Linked DNA regions of Homo sapiens. The protein of the gene in region 1 purifies or fractionates together with the protein of each later gene. This does not show direct contact. Each region holds a gene or a part of one and is shown on either strand. Other genes may lie near its edges.

The links. Proteins that work in one complex are often made in the same cells at the same time.
Region 2: the proteins of LACC1 (region 1) and SERPINB5 purify together in Homo sapiens (affinity purification with mass spectrometry; 4 studies listed by BioGRID and IntAct, with this or other methods). This does not show direct contact.

What each region holds. Positions count from the first base shown.
Region 1 is NC_000013.11:43,892,168-43,894,432, reverse strand, and holds the end of LACC1 (purine nucleoside phosphorylase LACC1), read right to left. Parts: 3' UTR 501-2,265; downstream 1-500. UniProt on the Homo sapiens protein: Purine nucleoside enzyme that catalyzes the phosphorolysis of adenosine, guanosine and inosine nucleosides, yielding D-ribose 1-phosphate and the respective free bases, adenine, guanine and hypoxanthine.
Region 2 is NC_000018.10:63,479,958-63,483,457, reverse strand, and holds part of SERPINB5 (serpin B5), read right to left. Parts: intron 1-3,500. UniProt on the Homo sapiens protein: Tumor suppressor. It blocks the growth, invasion, and metastatic properties of mammary tumors.

The sequences.
Region 1 (2,265 bases):
TGTGCAGTTAGTAGCAGTGCTTAGATTAAAAACAAAACTTTAAGAGGAATAAGTTCTAGTGTTCTATACCACTGTAGGATAACTATAGTTAACAATAGTATATTATATAGTTTGAAATAGCTGGAAGGAACATATTAAATGTTCGTAACACAAAGAAAAATGTTCGAAATGATAGATATGCTAATTACCTTGGTCAGATCACTGTACATTATATGAATGGAAACATTATTATGTATCTCATGAATAGGTACCATTGTTATTTATAAATTTAAAATAAAATTAAAAACAAAAACAAAACTTACTAGAAATCTTTGTTGTTGTACCCCAAAAGTCCTAGAAACCTACATACAAATATGTGAGAGTGACAGCTATCTTGTAGACACAATAAGATGATTATTTAATAACCTGATAGTTTGGAGTTACTAAATCAACACTTTTCATTCAGTAAAGCAGCAAGGAGACAACCTTTCATTATATACTTTGGCAGAGATAATCCAAAATCAGATAATCAAAATAATTTTTATTTGGTTGTAGAATGTTGTAGTACATAAAGCAAAATGTGTCTGCAGGATACTCCAAATTTACCAACTTCAAACAAAATAATGCACAGTGAAGAATTAGAAAATTATCAACCTTACTCAATACATGGAAGTATTCCTTAATCTTCATCATTTTCATTAAACAAAATAATATTTTGGATGAGTTCAACATTTCTATCCTATGCTTTATGTTTAGTGCCTTCCCTGAATTGGAAAAAATGAGGTGTTTTATTTAAATTTAACACTGGTCTAAGGGAGATATAGAATTAAACTAAACAAGAATCGGTTATCACAACCTCACAACATATATCAAAGTATTGAGATTGTTGGTTTACTGACTGTCACTTTTCACTGGATATTAAATATCCTGAGGGCTACAACTGTATTTTTTAACCTGTCCCAGTACCTCAACAAAATTTTCACTGAATGTATGAATAAATTATGTTAACAAAAAGTTAACAATAAAAGTATAATGAAGATCCCTTTAATTAATTTTAAAATCTGAAAGGAAAACTGGAGTCACAAAACATATGTTCAAATCTTAATTCATCACAAATTTTGTGATTTTTGACCTCCACCTCAATGAAGCTCAGTTTTCTCAGCTGAATAAAAGGGATAATGCCTGTGTATTTCAGAGTAGCTGTAAAGGTAAAATGAGGCAATGTACATGAAAGTCCTTTGGAAATACCAAACAAATGTTATTTGCTATCATGCTACCACATATACATGTAGGAAATATATGTATTAAATAAGAATATTTTTAAGATGCAATGTGATAACTTACATTAAATATATATACAATTTTTCCCAAATGAAAACTAACCTAATTCCTCTCTTTAACTGACAAACACACTCAAAACTGCTCATCCAAAAAAAGTCCCTTCCTTGAAGATGTAGTCCCCAGCTTTTTCTCTTCTCTAGTAAATGCTGTCAGAAAAGAGTTGACACCTATGCATCTTCTTCCTAATGCACTGAAAGCTGACTCAATGACCACTGCCTATAGAACAGTTTCAATATGTTTAATCCATTGATTTCTTTTAAATTATCACTTTATTTTATCCCTGAAGATTTCTTTTTGAGTACTTTCCACACCTATCCTGGCTTCTTCAAAACAACTACCCTTTTTTTCTTACTTCTGTGACTATAAGGTTGTATTATTGGATCTCCTTTTTTCTCATCCTAATTTCTGCCTAGATGATCAAACCTGCTCCAATAGAATCAGGTATCATCTCTGTATTGTAAGCTTTGAAATATTTGTCTCTGTCTCAGGTTTCCTCCTAATTTCTAGGTCTATATTTCTAATTATTAACCAAAGATTTCTATCTGGATGCCCTTCATTCTATGTAAAGTCAAACTCATTATCCTTCTCTCTTTTTCCAAACCTTCTCCCTCCCTTTGTTGCCAATCTTGGTAAGCAGCCAAGCAGAAATCTTAGAGTCATTAATGACTTTTCCACTCTTCCTCACCTCTTACTTCCATTATCTAGTAACAGGATCTATTGATTCCATCTCTTAAATGTCTCTCTAATCCATCTACTCTCTTCCCTATTTTAATTTCCACTTCCTTCATTGGATCTTCATTATTTCTTTTTGAAATATTTTGATCGCCTCTTATCTAGTCTCTATGCTTTGGTCTCACACAATTTAAATCCATCCTCTTAAATATGATGCCATGGGAAAAAAAAAAAAAACATCCTTACTTTTTTTTTTTTGGCTGCCTACTCATT
Region 2 (3,500 bases), on another chromosome or scaffold:
CTTAAAGTAACTAATGCCTTTGCAGGACACCCAGCACATAACAATACTTAATAAACAGCAGCGGTTATTGTTTGCGTTTATAATACGCATCTGTGTGTAAGACACTACCCAGAGTGTTACAAGGATCAGTGGACCTCCTCCTTCTCTAAGCTCATAGTCTCTTTGGGCAGATATGCAGACAAATAACTAGAATACAGAGCTGCCCAAGACATGTGAGTGGTATAATAAGTAATATGGGAGTTAAAGAAAAGAGGGAACAGTTTCAAAATATGTAGCCTGGTAAAGTGGATATAGCAGCAACTAGGCATCTTGTCACATCTCAGAGCTCTTTAATTTTAACACAGCAACTTCCAAAGTGTTGTGTCTTGACTCCTGGCAGTCCCTAACACCCTTTCAGGAGGTCCATGAGGTTAAAACTATTCTCATGATAATACTAAGACATTATCATTCTCAATCTCTAATAGACAGCGGAGTTTTCCAGAGGCTATATGACATCCCTTCTATTAAGCCAAATATTAAGGAGATTTGCAAAAATGAAAAACAATATCACTCTTCTCATTACATTTTTTCACTTTAGAAAATGTTTTTTAATATATATATTATTCATATTAGTATTTAATTATTATATTATTTTAATAAATTAGTAAATGAACATTTCAAAATGTGTCTGGTTTTCATTTCTAGTTTGGTAAATAGTGATAGATATAATCTACATTTTTTTTAAAGAAACAGTTCTTTGGGGTCCTCGGTAATTTTTAAGAGTGTAACAGGGTCCTCAGATTTAAAAAGCTTCACTGTTCTAATAAAGGTCTACCTACCTATTTAGTCTGGTAGTTACTGATCGACTCCAAAGACAATTAGGTAAATTCAGGCAGTCAGGGCTTCCCTTTCTGGGAGCAGAGCTGAACTACATGAACTCCTGAGGTTCTGCCTAAGCCAGGACAGCATGTTTCTAAGGGAAATGAATTGATATTACTACCCCGGGGTGAGCAGTACAGGGATTAAACTCGAAGTGTTCCCCCAAAGCCTCAGGCGCACACACACAGACACAAGGGCCGAATGTGACATTGAAGGTCTTCAGGTAGGACATGCACCCTGGCATTAGAAAGTAAGCTCCACTGCTTAAGATAGAGGACTCCCTTTGGCCAGTACCCAAACGTGTGTCAAGAGTCAAAGGCATGATGAATAGGATTGCAATTTGCACCTTATACCTGGACACAAATTCAGAATGCAAAGACGAGAATAAGATGGAGGAGAGGACTCCTGGTCTTTAAACATTTCTTCAGAATTCTCCCTTTTATGGGATATATGGCTTGTGTGTAGGATGGACTTAAATCGATTATATCTCAGAGTCTGAAAAAGCGAGTTCATTATCCAAAAATAATGTTTTATTGACTCTGTTCATGCTCACTGGTCATTTCCATGGGCTTCCTCCTTCTCCATATGTCCCTGATAAGTACAGCCATGCGCTCAGGCCAGTTCCCATTGCAAATATACCACGAGGCCCCCTGAAGTCAGGTGGGCCTCTCACTTTTCTTTAAAGCCCACAACCTTACTCCTTCTCCCCTCAGGGCAGGGGCAAGGGCCTACAGGTGACATCACACCCCAGGGAAAGGTGACTGGCATTAGGTGTATACTGAGGTCAGCAGGGTATACTGAGGCAAAAATGAAAGCCTGTTGAGTGTTTCACCCAGTGTGCCTGCCACTGGGAAAACATAAAGAAACTCTTCACAAAAGGTTTGGGGAATCTGTGGACAGACTTTCAGAATAGGAAACCTGGCTTCCTTCCACAGCACATTTAATATTAGTAATGCCAAGTTCATCTACAAGTAAAACTCAACATGTACAAGAAGTAATGAGTTATTTCTTCACCAAATAGAGAAGCCTAAACCCAGATCCCTGAAAGCTTCTTAACACTTCCACCAGTGGAGAGCTAATCGCACTGATAATAATATGAAAACACACAAACTGCTTTAACAAACACAAGTAGCTCCTCCAAGCACGTATTTATTATCCTCCAAGAGAAACTAGAATAATTTTGCATAGTCAATAACAAACTATACTTTTAGTGATTTCCTTTGTATAGAAAGATGGTGTTTAAGATCTTAATGTGCTGAGGGAGTTTGGCTGCAAACACCTACAAATGGATCTTAGGAGTGGATCAAATGGTGAGGAGATGTTCATTTTACCATTTTATTTCACTAAAGCATTATTCATTCACTTGTCACAACATTTTGAGATACATTTAGTCTAAATGATTGTGGATACAAGATCATTGTGGCTTTTAGTGTAGTTAATTACACAATACAATTAATGCTGTGTTGCAATTCAAGGCTTAGATCCAGGTCCCTGTTGGAGATGTAAATCAGTGCACATCTGACATCCTAACATCTCTGGGGCTTTCTCTCACCATTGGCGGACCTTCCCTTTGAGTGAGTCCCTTCCTTTGCATGCTAATCCTCAGTGCATGAACGCAAAGAGATCTGCCTTCCTGTTCCTATGCTGACTGGCTCCTTTCTCAGAAAATTCTCCTTCATGTCTGGGAAGGTCATACAGCCCTTAGTATCTGGGGTCCCAGTGGCAAGAGCATTGTTTGATGCTGGCTAAAGGAAACAGAAAAGGTCTGTACATGGAAAAGGTTGTAGTTGCAAAAAATCACCCACTAAGTAATCAATCAAATACTGCCCGGTAAATCTGATCAGTGGCTCTGTGATTAGTCCCAAGTGACCTAAAAACACTATAAAGTTGATCTGGTCTGAGGTAGCTCAAAAGATGACTTTGGCCACAGTTGCCACATGACTGTGTTGCAAGACAATCAAAGCATTTAAACAAACCTCAGCAATGTTAACAATACATGACCTGGAAAAAATACAAACTTCCTACACAGACCATTTTGCATGATCAAATGCTATAAAATTGCAAGTACCAGAGTAGAGATTAGCAATTCCTATATAATAAATTTAATGTGCCTAATGACTTCTGTTGAAAGTGCTAAAATTGCTACAAATTTTTTTTCATTCTGTTGCCTTGTCACAAGGGTCTTCTTCCATTTCTGTGAAAACCCTGTAACCATTTTAACAAGGAGAACTTCGTTTATAGTTGCAATGTAGAAAACGCTACATCTTTCAGCACTTAAAAGTTTAAAAGGAACTTTATTTTAACCATAGGAAAGTGAGATAGATGGAAGTTCAAGCAGTAATACAAATGCAGTTTTAAGAACTTATTTCCAAGTACCTTGCTTTCGCAATCTGTGCAAATTATAAACCTTGAAAGTGGGACAAGATCTTGGAGAGGATCTAGGCTGGCCACACCTCTTCATTTTACAGATGAGGAAAATGAGGCAGACAAAGATGAAGTGAGTCTCCCAGGCCACCCACGCAGGGAGTGAGAGTGGCAAAACCAGACCTAGAATTCATTGCTTCTAGCTCCCAGCCTGGCACTTCCCCGCCACACCTGATCACCTGCTTTCTTGTTAATTGCATCTTTGCTGGCATTTGTTC